2 separate regions of the Homo sapiens genome follow, and region 1 is linked to region 2. The links come from fine-mapping of genetic effects on gene expression. A gene starts in region 2. The other region holds a variant in brackets. All regions are shown on one strand. Distances are between the middles of the regions. Region 1 overlaps PDZD4 (PDZ domain containing 4). Region 2 holds the start of L1CAM (L1 cell adhesion molecule).

What was found. PIP is the estimated chance that this variant, and not a neighbour inherited with it, causes the effect.
Region 1: its variant is fine-mapped to the expression of L1CAM in T cells (TOPMed, PIP 0.98).

What each region holds. Positions count from the first base shown.
Region 1 is chrX:153,818,094-153,826,418 of GRCh38, reverse strand. All of the region lies in intron 1 of PDZD4 (PDZ domain containing 4), which reads left to right. Among named protein-coding and RNA genes, the nearest start is that of PDZD4, 8.3 kb to the left of the region's middle. RefSeq lists a silencer at 7,215-7,374. The variant G/A (reference allele first, on the strand shown) is at 3,655.
Region 2 is chrX:153,882,751-153,891,075 of GRCh38, reverse strand. L1CAM (L1 cell adhesion molecule) reads left to right here and starts at 4,903. Exons shown (of 29, transcript NM_001278116.2): 1 at 4,903-5,011. L1CAM-AS1 (L1CAM antisense RNA 1) reads right to left here. Exons shown (of 7, transcript NR_130768.1): 2 at 7,180-7,365; 3 at 6,803-7,128; 4 at 5,640-5,713; 5 at 5,099-5,268; 6 at 4,019-4,113; 7 at 2,086-2,579.

The DNA.
Region 1 (8,325 bases), 65 kb after region 2:
AATTGATTTTTATACATTGATCCTATATCTTGCGACCTTACTAAAATTGTTTATTAAGTATAATTTGTTTAGTAGATTCCTCAGGATTATCTACATATTAGGATCATGTCATTGGCAAATAGAAATCGTTTTTCTTCTTCCTTTCCAATCTGGATGGCTTTGATTTCTTTTCTTTTCTTTCTTTCTTTTTTTTTTTTTTTTTGAGACACAGTCTCACTTTGTCACCCAGACTGGAGTGCAGTGGTGCAATCTCGGCTCACTGCAGCCTCCGCCTCCCGGGTTCAAGTGATTCTCCTGCCTCAGCTTCCCATGTAGCTAGGATTACAGGCACACACTACCACACCCAGCTAATTTTTGTATTTTTAGCAGAGACGAGCTTTTGCCATGTTGGCCAGGCTAGTCTTGAACTCCTGGCCTCAAGCAATCCTGCCCGCCTCGGCCTCCCAAAGTGCTGGGATTACCGGTGTAAACCACCGTTCCTGGCCCTTCGATTTCTTTTTCTTGTTAATTTGCTCTGGCTGGAGTCTCTAGTACAATGTTGAATAGAAGTGCCTGTGAATGTCTTTCCCTTGTTCCTCATCTTAAAGGTAAAGAAGCTTCCAGTCTTTCACTAGGGGGTATAAAGTTAGCTGTGGCTTTTTCATAGCTGTCCTTTATCAGGGTAAGGAAGTTCCCATTCTATTCCTAGTGTGTTTTTATCATGAGAGGCATTGGATTGTGCAGTGCTGCTTCTGTGGCTAGTGAGATGACCACATGGTTCCTTTATTCCACGGATGTGGGTTGTCACAGGCACTTTCGTGTGTCATGTCGGAACCTCAGCCCCATTCCTATATTCCAATCATGTCCTCCTAGTTTGGAAAATCTGGGACCTCCCCTGAAAATGGAGGATTACTGCGTGTTGAGTTAGGAAAAGGAAGCAGGCTGGTTGCCCAGAATGGAAGGCAGGAAACAGCATGTCCCCAGCTCCGGAGCCTTTTCTGCAGCCCATGTCCCTCCACTGCCACCAGGCCCCCTTGTCATATATCTCATCGTGGTCCACACTCTGCTGAACTTGTCTTGGCCTTGGCACCCCCTCTCTGACACCATGATGTGCTTGCTAGCATCCGAGCACGCCGGAGATGGTCAGGGGATAAACCCCTGGTACTTAGGACTGGTCTCCCGCCCATCCTACTCAGGCTTTACAGGGGGAGTGGGTCAGGACCGCCTGTCATCTCCCCTCTGTCCACATCGAGGGAGGCCAAAGGACAGCTGGCCAGCCCTTCTGGTGATCTCCCAGGCATTCTTGCCTAAAGCACCTGCATGTGAGCCCCCATGGTGCTGGCAGCCATCCTGGGTGCGTGGCATTCAGCAGGGAGACACTGCAGACAGGGCCTTGCCCCTCCCCCAGACTCCCCTTTTGTTGTTGTTGTTGTTGTTGTTTGAGACAGAGTTTCGCTCTTGTTGCCCAGGCTGGAGTGCAATGGTACGATCTGGGCTCACCAAAACCTCCGCCTCCAGGGTTCAAGCGATTCTCCTGCCTCAGCCTCCCGAGTAGCTGGGATTACAGGCATGCGCCACCATGCCTGGCTAATTTTGTATTTTTAGTAGAGATGGGGTTTCTCCATGTTGGTCAGGCTGGTCTTGAACTCCCGACCTCAGGTGATCCACCCACACCGGCCTCCCAAAGTGCTGGGATTACAGGAGTGAGCCACCACGCCTGGCCCCAGGCTCCCCTTTTTGTAAGGGGGAGACCATCGCCAACATGTAGGCAACTGCGGGGGAGAGAAAGTACTGCTTGAGTGCGGGAGCGTGGCTGGCAGCCAGTGTCCCCTCTTCAGCGACGTCTTCCTCCAAACTGCTCTCCCACCCACCAAGCCAGGTGGCTTCTCTGGCTCCCTCCTGCTTGCATGGGGGCTTCCTGTGAGCAGGGATTTGGGTCTGGCATGGGCACTCTGCCTCCCCGCCTCACCAGCACCAGATGCTGCCAGCACATCCACGCTGGCCTCCACCCTTCCAGGGGAAAGCTGGACTCTCAGTCAACTCAGTGGTTCTGCCGCAGAAGCTGACTGGGGAAGAAGCAGGCTCTGAGAAAGTCCTTGTGGAGTGGAAGAACAGAGGGCTGGACACTGAATTCTGACTGCCATCTTCTGGACCAGGTCATCCTGTTTTGTGTCATTGTCCCAAGATTGTAGAATGCCCTTTCCCCTCTCATCTCGGGGTTCCTGAGGACTGTCCAGTCTGCTGAAATGAAATTCGATAGTGCCAGAGAGCAGATTCGTGGTTGCAGGGATGGGCAGAGGGGCATGAGGACACTTTTGGGGAAGATAGAAATGGCCACTGTCCTGACGGTGGTGATGGTTCCCCAGGTTCATGTATGACATATGAACACCTGCCCTTTGCACACTGAAGATGTGCAGGTTACCACCCAGCAACAGACCTCACCAAAGCTTTAGAACAGGAACTCCATGGCCACATGCACGCATCCTGGGGAGAAAGGTGTCCTTTCCTTCCTTCTACTTCAGGGGCCCTGCCAGAGAAGGCAGTGCAGTGTGGAGATAGGAATGGAGGCAGCCACCAACTGACAGCTGTGTGGCCAGGGGCAAGTCGCTGCATGGCCCACTGGCTCAGTGACTCAGTTTCCTCAACTGTGAAATGGCAGTGAAGAGTGCTTGCGTCCGAGGGCCATTGTGACAAGGAAAACAGATGGTGTGTCCCCCGGGATCTCACTGGGTGGAGGAGGGAGTTGCTGCCCTCGGGCCATTCAGTTGGTCATTAAGAAGTGGAAATTGGCTGGGTGCGGTGGCTCACGCCTGTAATCCCAGCACTTTGGGAGGCCGAGGCGGGTGGATCATGAGGTCAGGAGTTCGAGACCAGCCTGGCCAGCATGGTGAAACCCCATCTATACTAAAAATACAAAAAATTGACCAGGCGTGGTGGCTCACGCCTGTAATCCCAGCACTTTGGGAGGCTGAGGTGGGCGGATCACCTCAGGTCAGGAGTTCGAGACCAGCCTGACCAACATAGAGAAACCCCATCTCTACTAAAAATACAAAATTAGCCGGGCATGGTGACACATGCCTGTAATCCCAGGTACGCGGGAGGCTGAGGCAGGAGAATTGCTTGAACCCGGGAGGTGGAGGTTGTGGTGAGCTGAGATCACGCCATTGCACTCCAGCTTGGGCTCGAAACTCCATCTCAAAAAAAAATATATATATATATATTAGCTGGGCATCATGCACCTGTAGTCCCAGCTACTCGGGAGGCTGAGGCAGGAGAACTGCTTGAACTCAGCAGGTGGAGGTTGCATGAGCCAAGATCAAGCCACTGCACTCCAGCCTAGGTGACAGAACGAGACCCTGTCTCAAATAAATAAATTAATTAAATAAAAAATAATGAAAAAGGAAATTATATGGAGAAGGCCTTACATCTGGGTATGTCACAGTTAATGCCCAGTGACAGAAGAATGTCCAATATTATTCTGAGAATTTCTCTCAGGAAAGGGACCTCCAAGTTTTGAAGAAGTGTGATGTAGTACAATATTAGTTAGGACAGCCTGGGCAACATATTGAGACCTTGTCTCTACAAAAATAAAAAATTGCTCAGGCGTAGTGGCATGCGCCTCTAGTCCCAGCTTCTGGGGAGGCTGAGTGGGAGGATTGCTTGAACCCAGGAGTT[G/A]GAGGCTTCTGTGAGCCGTGATTGTACCACTGCACTCTAGCCTGGGCAATGGAGCCAGACTGTGTCTGGAAAAAAAAGAAAGAAAGACAGAGAGAAAGAGAGAGAGAGAGAGGGAGGGAGGGAGAGAGAGAGAGAGAGAGAAAGAAAAAACAGATGGACAGGGAACAAAGCGGAGGCATATGTGGTCATTTTGCACAGGAGTTGGGCCGGAGGAGGCGAGGCTGAGCAGCCTGGGGCTGGACAAGATGTCCTCCCTTTCAGTGCATTCTGCCTGTCCTCATGGCTGCTTGGAGCATTGAGAATGAAAAACGCTGCAGAGGGAATATTGCTTTGATTGTAAAACGCTGCAGAGGGAATATTGCTTTGATTGTTGCTAGATGTGAACTGTGCCCTTAGCCAGTCAGGTTAGCCTGAGGTGGGTGGGAGGATGGGTTTAGTTGCTGGGCCACGTGCCTGGAAAGCTGTGAATATGTACCCGAAGGTTGATCTTGAGAATGGCTTCAGGAAGTGGTTGGCTTTTCCTGTGCAAGGTGTGGGACACCCCTCTTTTCCTGTGTGTTTTTTTTTTTTTTTTTTTTGAGACAGAGTCTTGCTCTGTCACCCAGGCTAGAGTGCAGTGTTGTGATCTCGGCTCATTGCAGCCTCCGCCTCCTGGGTTCAAGCAATTCTGCCTCAGCCTCCCGAGTAGCTGGGATTACAGGCACCTGCCACCACGCCTGGCTAATTTTTGTATTTTTAGTAAAGACAGGGTTTCATCATGTTGGCCAGTCTGGTCTCAAACTCCTGACCTCTAGTGATCCGCCTGCCTCGGCCTCCCAAAATGCTGGGATTACAGGCGTGAGCCACCGCGCCCGGCCTCCTTTCTGCTTCTGAGCCAGGACTATGGAGGTGTCTGAGAGGCCGCCGCTCTCCCGGAAAGGTGGGGGCCAGGTGGATTGATGAGACTTCAGCAGACCCTGGGCTTCGGGGAGGGAAGGAGAAGTGAGGGGAAAGAAAGATGCCCTCATGCAGAAGGCCTTCGTTGAGGTCTGCCCTGGTTCCTCCAGGGCGCGCTCTGAGTCAGTACAGCGCCACCCTCCACCCGAAGTCCTTGTTAAGGTGCACTTTCTGACTGAGCCACTAGCATGGGGCCTGGGATTCTGCACTTCTCACAAGCTCCCAGGTGATGTGGATCCCACTGGCTGTGAGTAGCCAGGGCCTTGGGTAGGGACCGGGAGTAGATCTATGGTAGCCCCAAACCACATTAACATGGGTGGTGAAGTGAGGTGTTGTTTTTTTTGTTTGTTTGTTTTGTTTTTTTTTTTTACAAATAGAGGGTAAAAATTGTTTACAAATAGAGGGTAAAAAAACACACATAGAGGGTAAATCAGAACATCCAGGAGTCGTTGCCTACGTGAGGGCTTTACAGGACATAACTTGTTCTTCCCTGCCATGTGCAGCTAACTGACCCCCTTCCCTGTCACCGGCACCCCTACCGGTATACATGTCTCTCATGGACGCCCAGACACCCCTCCCCCGACTAACTGCTCAAAGGCCTTTGAGATGAAGCCCTCCCATGTTTCTGTCTCTCCTGCCCCCAGGCAGAAAGGGTGGGCACAGAGTTATGGAAGCGGGTGGTGTGGCTTGCCCAGGAGGCCACAGTTGGGGGCGTGGGCAGCCATGCTACTTGCCGGGCCTGTCACCTCTTTGTCCCTGCTAGAATTCTAACATGTTGGTGGAGACATTTTGCAGCCACCAATGCAGTAATTAATTCAGGCAAAAATCATCACTGGATGCCAAAACCATTAGATGTAAGGTCGTTGGGGACAGAATATTCACAAAGTCTCCAAATATTACCCCAAATTACCTGTGAATCAGGAAGGGAAACTGCGTCTTTACAGAGGAGAGATCTGGCAGCTGCCACCTGGACCATGTGATCAAACAGCCTCCCCAACAGTGGGGCAGCCTGACCCTGCCAGCCGCCAGATGCAGGGCTGGGGAGGAGACATACAGCATCTCCTGCAAGGTGCTCTTGTCAAAACGCTCAGCCTGAATCTCACCGCGGGAATGAATCAGGCAAATTCAGACTCTGGCGCATTCTATAAGGACTGGTCTCTTCCAAGAAGTCATTCCCATTAAAGTAAAAAATATATATATTTTTTTCTAGATTAGAGAGGAGACATAATAACTAGAGACCTAACAACCGAATGTAATATGTGTGCTTCTTGATTGAATCCTAGATTTTTTGTTTGTTTGTTTTGTTTTTGAGATGGAGTCTCTCTGTGTCACCCAGGCTGGAGTGTGATGGTGTGATCTCAGCTCACTTCAACCTCTGCTTCCTGGGTTCAATCAATTCTCCTGCCTCAGCCTCCCAAGTAGCTGGGACCATAGGCTGCACCACCACGCCTCGCTTTTTTTTTTTTTTTTTTTTTTTTTGAGATGGAGTCTTGCTCTGTCGCCCAGGCTGGAGTGCAGTGGCACGATCTCGGCTCACTGCAACCTCCTCCGCCACCCGGGTTCAAGTGATTCTCCTGCCTCAGCCTCCCTAGTAGCTGGAACTACAGGTGCAAGCCACCACGCCCGGCTAATTTTTGTATTTTTAGTAGAGACGGGGTTTCACCATATTGGCCATGCTGGTCTCGAACTCCTGACCTTGTGATCTGCCCGCCTCAGCCTCCCAAAGTGCTGGGATTACAGGCATGAGCCATTGTGCCCAGCCTCAAATCCTAGATTTTTAAAAAAAGCTATAAGGGTGTTAGCGGGACAGCTGGGGAGATGTGAGGCTGGCCCATTGTATGAGTGCGGAATTCCGTGCTAAGGGTGTTGTGGTTCCACGGAGAATGGGACTGATGGCATCTTGCTTTCAAATGCTTCTGCACATGTGTGTGTAGAAACCCCGAGAGCAGGTGTGGGGAATCTGCAGATGTTCCCACATGCTTGTGGGCGGACAATTTTCAAAATCCCGAGCTGGGGAAACATGAATGGGGACTTTGCTGGGTCACTGAGTGGGTGAATGTAGTGAGCCTGCGGCTTCTCCTTTCTCCTCTGATGCTCTACTCGTTGGGAGATCCCCCGATGCCTGACTTGGCCTGGAAGCTACAGTCACAACTGCTTCCAAGGTGTCCTGGATACTCCAGACGGCAGAGCTGAGAGCCAGCAGGCAGGTCAGAGCTCGGCCCCGGGCAGAGGATAACTTCCTGTCTCTGTCCTTCCCCAGCTTGTTTCCTACTCTACAGCAGTGGGGTAAGGGGAGTCCGAAGGTGGCAGCCCCCCCACCTCCGTGGCAGCCACGGGGGCCCCTGGAAGTGATGTGGCTTCACCTCCCATCCCGCGCGTTGCCAGTGAGAGTGAAAGGGGTCGCAGGCGCCGTGTGACAAGCACTTGGGATTGCGAGTCTCCCAGGCCACAACTGTTTTCTTAGCCTCTCCGGCCTCTCTTCTCGGCTTCCCAGAGATTCCTGATCAGCAAGAGGGCGTCGCGCCCCACCCGGCTGTGCGCCTGCCACCGCTGGGTGCAGGAGGGTGCCTGGGGCAGAGCCTGGAAACAGAGCTCAGCCTCCGACGGGGTTGGCGGGGCGGGCGGGCAGGAGTCCTGCCAATACAGCCACCAGCGTGGCGGCGCCGGGACGAGTGTGGTCCGCCCTGCTCCCGCAGCCGCAGCCACCCCGCCGCCGTCGCGGCGCGCTCTTTGTCTGCGGCTCCGGGCTCAGGGGGCGGGGCGAGCGCGCCTGGGGCTCCGCCCTCTCCGCCTAGGGCGCCCCGCTTCCCGCGTCCCCTAAGGCCCGCCAGTCCCTTGCCCAGCGGGAGATCGCCGCCCCACAGCGACTGCCCGTGGGGCCGACTTCGCGTCATGCCTGCCTCGCCTGCCCGGTGTTGCCCCCTCCCCTGTCCCTGTGTCCCCCCTCCCTTGCCCGCATGTCCCCCTCATGCGGGGAAAGCGGTGCCAGCACTTTCCCTGGCCTTGCGAATTGCTCTTCCATCGGTATTCAGCCGCCCCTCTGATGTTCCTGAAAACCCAACCTGCTCCTTCTCTGCAAAAAGCTCCGGAAGGCTGTGTCGATGCAGGTCGAGCTTCCCCACCCGGCCCCCTCCCACCTTTTAGCAAATCCAGAGGCCCCACCTTCGCCCTCCCCTCCCGGGCTCCGACCCAGTGCATTGAGCAGCTCCTCGGCTTCCCTCCCGGGACTTTCTAGTCTCTCTCCCCAACCGGCTCAGTGTCAGGGTGCCCCAGGACTCTCCTTGGGCCTCTCCTGTTCTTGACTACATTCACTCCCTAGGTGAGCTCCTCCATCTCATGCTTTTGCTTTTTAAATTTTTATTTATTTATTTTTAAATTTTTATTATTTTTGAGACAGGGTCTCAGTCCGTTGCTCAGGCTGGAGTGGAGTGGCACAATCACGGCTCACTGCAGCCTTGACCTCCCAATGCTCAGGTGATCCTCTTGCCTCAGCCCTACCGCCTGCCCCCTACCTCCTCCACCACTTGGGGCTACAGGAGCGAGACACCACGCCCAGCTTCATCTCATGATTCTTTTTTTGTTTGAGACGGAGTCTTGCTCTGTTGCCCAGGCTGGAGTACAGTGGTGTGATCTGGGCTCACTGCAACCTCCACCTCCTGGGTTCCAGTGGTTCTCCTGCCTCAGCCTCCCAAGTAGTTGGGATTACAGGTGCCTGCCACCACGCCCTGCTAATTT
Region 2 (8,325 bases):
GCATATTGACAGCTCTCGGCACTCACTCCCACCTTGTGGGCTCTGCATGGCAGAGGCTGGAAATGTTCCAGACTCCAGAGCAGCTGGACTTTGGGAAGCAAATTTAGTTTTGCCAATTGGCAAATTGGCAAATTTGCCAATTGCCAAATTGGGTGTGCTCACATGAAGTTTGGATGACTGAAGGAAGGGAAGCCACACTTCTGCTGTGTGGGGCTGCGTTTCTGCTGGACATCAAAGAATTTCTGGGGTCTAACCTTCACTTCTTGGTTGTTGAGGGGCACTTGTGGCAGCAATGGCTTCCTGGTCCCAGCTTGCTGATCCTCAGGTCATGACTTTGGTGGTGTCTTTTTGAACTCAAAGGTTACACTGGCCGCCTCCCAATCCCCCATCTTGTGGATGGTGGCAGAGGTAGCAGCTCCCTTGAGGAGCCAGGTCTGCACTGGTGTTATCAACACCTAGCCCAGAGTCCACTCCTTTGGCCCATCCAATGGTCAGGTAAGCATCTAATCCCTTCTACAGAATCCCTTTCTGTTCATGATCACGGGAGGAATTTCTGCTTCCTACCCTGAACCTTTGAGAGGTGAAGCCAGCTAGACTTCCTGGGTGATGTGGGGACTTGGAGAACTTTTCTGTCTAGCTAGAGGATTGTAAACACACCAATCAGCGCTCTGTGTCTAGCTAAAGGATTGTAAATGCACCAATCAGCAGTCTGTAAAAACGCACCAGTTTTCTGTGTCTAGCTAGAGGATTGTAAATGGACCAATCAGCACTCTGTAAAATGGACCAATCAGCACTCTGTAAAATGGACTAATCAGCAGGACATGGGAGGGGACAAATAAGGGAATAAAAGCTGGCCCCCCCCCGCCCCCCACAAGCAACGGCAACCTGCTTGGGTCCTCTTCCATGCTGTGGAAGCTTTGTTCTTTCACTCTTCACAATACATCTTGCTGCTGCTCACACTTTGGGTCTGTGCCACCTTTAAGAGCTGTAACACTCACCGCGAAGGTCCGCGGCTTCATTCTTGAAGTCAGCGAGACCAAGAACCCACTGGAAGGAACCAACTCCAGACACACCTTCACTGATACAATGTGGGGGTGAGGCCAGGTGCAGTGACTCACTCCTGTAATCCTAGCACTTTGTGAGGCCAAGGCAGTGGATCACCACTTGAGCCCAGGAGTTCAAGACCAGTCTGGACAACATAGTGAGACCTCACCTCTACCAAAAAAGAAAAAAAAATTAATCAAGTGTGGTGGTGGCACATCTGTTGTCCCAGTACTTGGGAGGCTGTGGTGGGAGGATCACTTGAGCCCAGGAGGTCGAGGTTGCAGTGAGCCATGATCACACCACTGCACTCCAGCCTAGGGAACAGAGTGAGACCCTGTCTCAAAGTAATAACAACACTAATAAAAAATAATAAAGTGGAGGTGGGGGAGAGAGATGGGGAAAGCAGGACAAATAGAAAGCAAATACTCACCTGGCGTGACTACATCCAGAGATAGCAGCAGTCATCACCGTGTGACCAGCTGACCTGCACAGTTCAAAGACAAAGGCAGGTTCAACATCAATCTACCACTTGACTGAACAATCCACTCCTAAGCGGTTACCTTAGAGAAATGAAGACACACATTTACACAAGCTTGCATATAAATGTTTAGAGCTGCTCCATCATAATCACACAAAGCTGGAAACTACCCAAGTGTCCTTCAGTGAGTGAATGGCTGAACAAACCCTGATCCAACCAAACAATGGAATACTACTCGGCAATCAAAAGGAAATATACTGCTCTCTCTCGCCCGCATGCTCTCTCTCTCTCTCTCTCACACACACACACAAACACACACACCAACATGGATGAAGCTCAAAAAGTATGCTGCGTGAGTGTGAAAGAAGCCAGACAAAAGAATATATACGGTATGATTCCATTTATAATAAAATTTAGAAAAGACAGAAATCAGATCAGTGGTGGCCAAGGGCAGGGGGTGGTGGGAGTGGTTGGCTGCACACAACATTCACCAAAACTCCTTGAACTGTAAACCTCAAAAGGATGAATTTTACTGTATGTAAATTATACTCCAATAAAGTTGATTTTTTTTTTTTTTTTTTTGAGACAGGGTCTCACTCTGTCACCCAGGCTGGAGTGTAGTGGTGTGATCATGGCTCACTGTAGCCTCAACCTCTTGGGCTCCAGCGATCCTCCCACCTCAGCCTCCTGAGTAGTTGGGACTACAGACATGCACCACCATGCCTAATTTTAAAATTTTTTTTGTAGAGACGTGGTCTCGCTGTGTTGCCCAGGCAGGTCTCAAAGCTGATTTTTAAAAAGACAAGAATTGTTAGACAGAATCAAACCAAACCAAAACCCAACTATGTGCTGTTTCCAAGCGCTACACCTGAGATATGAAGACACAGAAAGATTGAAAGGAGAACAGAGAAAGACACGTCTGGCTGAGCCCACCCCGCCTGCCTGCTGGCACTTCCTTACTGCCCCACTGTCGTCTGTGGCTTCTGCGTCTTCTGCATGCTCATCACAGGGTCAGAGTCTGGGGCTTCCCTTGTCCAGTCCACTGTGTCTATGAGGGCTGGGTCACAGGGAGCAGGGCTGTGAGAAGCACTTGACGTTGAAGGGAAAGAGACAGTCATCTGTCTACTTGGTGTCCCCCTAACCTCCAACAGCAAGCACATGGCAGTGGGGGGGTGGCTTGCCTCTTGTTCAGGGCCAGTCCCTCCTGCTTCTCCTGGGACTTGCTCTGCCCTTGGTCTTCTGTCACTCTTGCTCTTGCTCCCATTGGCTCCTCCACTTCATTACATGGAAGTGAGAATGGGCATCGTGGTCAAGCAGAAGGGAATTCAAGTCCGAGTTCTGCCATTTACCTTCTGGGCTATCTTGGGTGGGTCATTTGACCCCTCTGAACCTTGGTTTCCTCATCTGTGAAATGGGGGCACTGATAGTGCCAATTTCTTCCTGGTTGCATGACTGCCCCTCTCTGGACCTTGGGTACCTCACTGGGAGAGTGAGGATAATAACAGCACCATCATCTGGGGTGTGTGTGTGGATGCAATGAGCCAGTGGAGAGAAAGAGACCTTCCTAACTGTGCTTGCTGGACCCAGCCTTGAGCTCTGTGGGCTTTGGTTTTCTCATCTGTAACGTGGGGCGAATGCTTCAACAGACCTCCCCAGGTTGGTGTGCAATTTAAATGTGCAGGAAATGTAACGATGGCAGGTCCATGGCTGTGCTCAGGAAATGTGATGTCGTGTAATCCTAGTAATGAATTTTTTGTTACCATAAATGGACCCATCACTACACATTAGCAGGTGCGTATAAACGGGCTCTATTCCCTGCTTACTTCACCATCCTGATGGGCATCAAACCCTAGATTAGGTAAAGGATTTGCAGAAGTTGGGGCTTGGAGGAAAGGCTGGGAACGTAGGGAGTGAGTGGAGGCAGCAACTGGAAAGGAGAGAGGCCTATCAGAGTTCAGATCAGCAAAGGCAGGAAGCTGACCACAGCTCAGTGCCTCATGGAAAGTACGCCCTCTTGGCCCAGCTCATGAGCCTGCTGGCCTCGTGACCCAGGCGGGCTCAGTTTCCTCTGCTGTCACCTGAAGATGCCCTGCAAGTGCCCCCACTCTGGAAGCAGTCTCCCTAGCCGTCCGTCTTCACTCAGGTGCCTAGTCTTGTCCATTCTCCTCCTAAAGGCTGGGCAAACATGGCATCCAGACCCTCTCTGAGCACAGATGGGTCCACCCCAAGCTTCCCATTCCAGGGGAACTGAAGCTGGCACTATGGGGGTGGGGCATCCAAGCCAGGATGCCAGGGCTGCTCCCATGTGGGCCCTCCAGGGCCCCACACCACTTGGGGAGTCTTGTGAGACTGAGTCGAGGGCCCCTGGAATGCTTCACTGGGCAACAGGCATGCCCATAAAAATACCGTGGCCGCCAGATCTGCAATCTGCCATCGGGGCCCTAGGCCTTCCTAGCCCTGAGGCTGCAGCCAGCTCGCCGGCTCCGGAATTCTTACCCCCTCCATTTTGCTTCCTCGCCTGTGAGGTCATGGCCTTGAGCCTAGGAGGGGGCACTGGGGAGGAGCTCCTTCCTTCTCGATCCTGTGCAGGGCTGCGGGGGAGAGTGGGAGAGAGTGGAGTCGGCGGGAAAGGTCGAATGGGGCCAATCCCGAGGACAAAGAAATAAGACACCAGAGAGCTGGAGGAAAATCTGGGAGTTGGGGGTGGCAGTTCGAGGGATACCCTCTCCCAGACCCTGTCTCCCCTGGGCTCGCCTCCTACCCTGCCGCCCACCTGGGCTCTGGGGTGCGCAGGAGCCGGTGCTCCGCGGCGCCTCCCCAACACGCTGAGGACGAAGCCCCCGCACCCCTCCCAACAGGACCCTGACTGGGCCCTCAGGATCGGGGGGCATTCGGGAGAGGTCCCGGGAGTCCTGCCCTGTGTGTGTGTGTTGGGGGGGCGTTGCGTGCAGGTGCCCATCGCTGGCCGGCGCCGTCGAGGGCCAGGCCGAGGCTAAGGGAGCATCCCCTTCCTTGCCGGACTCCTCTCTCCACCGCCCGGCCCCAGGCCTCTGGGAGCACTCTCGCCCCGCGATTCCCGCTCCGAGCTTTCACAGCGGGCTCCCTTGCGCTGGGGCTGAGGACACTCTCCGGCCGGAGACTCCCGGTCTGCGGGGAAGGGGGTCTGGCGGGACCCGTCGGCTGGGGTCCCGCTGAGCTCCCGGAGTGGGCTGCCCGGGGGCCCCCAGCCCAAGCCGCGCTCGGCTGGCACCAGGGGCTAGGGTGCGGCGGGGCGGGGCGGGGCGGGGCGGGCGGCCGGGGAGGTGATCTCACTCCTCCCTCCCTCTCCTCCCCGGCGCTCCCCTCCCCCGCCCCTGCGCGCACGCCCGCCCCGCCCCGCCACAGCCGCTGCTGCCGCAGCATCGGCATCGCAGACGCGCTCGGGCGGCGGGTCCGAGGCCGGCGTGCGCGGAGGCTGGGCGGGCAGCCCGAGCGGTGGCCGCAGCGCAGGTAAGGCGGGCTGGCCTCCCCGTGCGACCCGGGCCGCGGCCGCGATCCCCCGGCGACACCACACCGCTCTGCCCGGGGTGCACGGACCAGGGAGTCCCGGCCCGGTCCGGCCCGCGGTAACCGGCGTTGCTGCCGGAGCCCCACCCATGCCGGGCGTCGGGCTCCGGGCACCGCGGGCTGTAAGCGGGGCGGGGGAGGGATGCCGGGTGCCCGAGCCCGACAGGTGAGGGGTAACCTGCGGGGCCCCAGATGCTGGCCTGGGCGGGAGAACAGGGCGGGGGGCGTCAGGCAGGGTCTGTGTGGGCAGGCGGGGGCTGAAGTTGGCGGGTCCCCGTGCGTGTGTGCGTGTCTGAGAAAGGAAGCCAGATCGGGTCGAGCGCTCCCCCACAGGCCGCCGTGGGGTGTGGCCCTGGGCGTGGCTGCCCCTCATCCCCAGCCGAGAGCTCAGTTTGGTTGAAAATCCCGGCTGACAGCGTGGTGAGGGGTAGATCGGGATAAGCCGCCCCTGCAATGGGGGGAGGGGAGTGAACGGGACTGGGCGCTGCCTGCCCCTCCGCCCCAAGGTTGGGGGGGCTTTGTTCTCCTCCTTCTTCTTTCCAAATCCCAGCCTGGGCTCCTCCGGGCTCACCCGAAAACCTGCCGCAGAGCCAGGGGCTCCTCCCCGGAGGCGTAGGGCGCCTCTGGAGCCCGTTTCCACAGGCTCTGTGGCCAGTCAGGGCTGGAGTGGGTGAGGTCGGTTCGGGCACCCACTGCTGTGCCTCCCGTGCATGGGTGTCCATCAGGTAGGGTCCATCAGGTAGGGGTGAGGGAAGGTGGGCCTCACTGGCTCAGGCGGTCCCTGCGCACTGCAGGTCTTTTGCCCACTGCCACATCTTCCTATCTCTGTGCGGTTATGGGAGGGGTCAGCGATTCCTATTCCCTCCATTCCAGGTCAGACTTTTGGGGCCTCTTGGTTGGCAGGGATTGCAAAGAACACGCACTACAATCCATTGCCCCCGACAGGGTATCTGGACCCCCCACCTATCACTGTCCCTCTCAGGAAGGCAGGCCTAGAGCCATCTGCCCCCTTCTCCAGAAGGAGTGGGGGCCTGGCACCCCCCAGGTAGATACCCTGCCCCTGTTAACCCCACCCTGAGGGCAGGGGCATCGGGGCAGCCCAGTGCCATCTCTGCTGACTCATGTGGCCCTGACGTAAATCAGTGCAGTCCGCCCTTCTTCCCCTGGGGGCTGCTGCCCAGCATCATCTTTCTGGGGCGGGGGCCTCCCCAGGGCCTCTCCCCTCCCGTCAGCTCCTTGCTGCAGGTGGTGGGACTTGGCCCAGCCTGGCCTCTCCCCTGGCACAGCTCCCATGCAGTGCCCACATGTGCACACCTGAGGGCTCCAGAGCCTTTGAGGACTCGGCTGTCTTGGCCACATGGGAAGTTTGGGGCAGGGTTGGGCCTGGGACCTTCCCACCTCCTTGGCTCCTGGTCATTTCTCTCTGCTGCATCTGAGTCTCTCTCCATATTTATTGATGTTTGTGTGTGTATGATCCCGAAAGTAATACATCTTATTGTAGGACACTTGAAATATACAGAAAAGAACAAAAGAAATTAAGAATCGCTAGTGATCTGATCACCAAGAGGGAAACACGTTCAGCACGCCCCAGCCTCCCTGGTTTGCTACACCGCGCTCCTAAAAGGCTCCTCCCCAAGTTCCCAGCTGCCAGCTCCCTGCTGAGCATCAGGAGGACAATCAGCGCTTCAAGGTGGCGGGGTCCCCTGCCCTGCAGCCAGTGAAGAGCTTCCCTACCCAGGCGCTCAGGATCCCAGCGATGGGCAGTCGTGTACTGGGCAGCTGCTCATGGCCAGTGCTCCTTTGGGCCGGGCTCTGGGCTGCCCATGGAAGAGCCAGTGACAAACTGGACCAGCATTGTCCCTGTCTTCGTGGGGTGTCACTTGTTTTCTTTTTTCTTGATGATTATCTGAAGGGAAAAGGGAGGCAAAGAGTGAGGAAGGGCCTGGCCTGAGGGCTCCTACAGTGAGCAGGGTGCCCAGATTGTGCCCCCAATCGGCCTCTCCCAGGTCCGAGCCCTTTCCACCACTGGAACTACAGCTGGCGCCTTCCTTGGCATGCACCTGGCCAGGACTGGCAGGTGAGGGTCGAGGAGACAGGCCTGTGTGCCCTACCTTGATCACCAAGTTCCCTTTCAAAGCTCGAAATGGCTGCACTGAGTGCTTTTCTGGGTGTGAGGGTGATGCGGCCTCGCAGAGTGGCCCAGGCTCCAGGAGGGCACGTTCATGGGAGAACCTGGGGTAGTGGTGGGGTCCTGTGAGGAGGTCTGCCAGGATGGGGATCCCAGCCAAGACCCTGGTCTGCCAGGCATGAGTGGGGGCATGAGTGGGGGCCCTGCCTCCCTCCCTCGTGGTTCAGACAGTGGGGGAGGCGGGGGGTCTGGATGCCCTTCTAGGGTCCCCAGCAGGGTGCTCATTGCCCTGTCCTCTGCCCCTGCAATGGGCTGGGGCTGGGTCCCTGGGTGGGGCCATCTGGAATGGGCCTGCAGCATCCCTGCCCCTGCAGTCGCTGTCTTACTTGCTCTGATCTGGCCCATCTCGGACACCTCCTTCTCCTGCTTCCCCCGCCCCCCTGCTCTCTCCTCTGCAGCCTCCCACGTCTCCCTGTGCCCCACCCCCAGGGCCATCACCTTCCTCCTCCTTCTAGGCAGAAGCCTGCTGCTGCCGGGGATGGGGTGCACCACTCCCCGTCTCCTCCCTCTGCCTCTGCCTGCCTGGCCCTCCCTTCCCTCTTCCCCCTTCCCGTCAGGGCTCTGCTCCATCTCTCTGCTTACCCTTTTGTCTGTCTTCCACCGCTCTGCTCCTCTCCTTGTCCCCCCCAGCTGCCCCTGCCTCACCCTTGAGGGCCCTGAGGTTGTGCCCTGTCCAGCAGCCACTCAGCACCCTTCTGCTGGACTCTACGCCTTGGGGTTGGGCCCAGACCCCCCATGGGGGCCTTGTCTGAGTGGAAGGCTGTATGGGGGGTGCCTGGTGAGCAGCAGCCAGACGAGCACTGGGGGAGGTAGCCCGCCCAGCTTGCCTCTTCCCCAGATATCAACAGGGTCTTTGTGGCTTCCTGAAGGCTGTGGCTGGAAAAAGAGGGAGGAGCTGGGGAGGGTCTGGCCGCTGTTCTTTCTAGAAGCTTTTCTTTGTCCAGTGGCCCCCAGCCCAGGTCCCCGTGTTCTTCCCAGGTTGGAAAGCTGCAGAGGGAGTGCCCAGCCACTGTCAGTCAGCAGCTCCTGCTCATCTCTGGCCCTTACACCCAGCAGGGGCAGCTGCGAG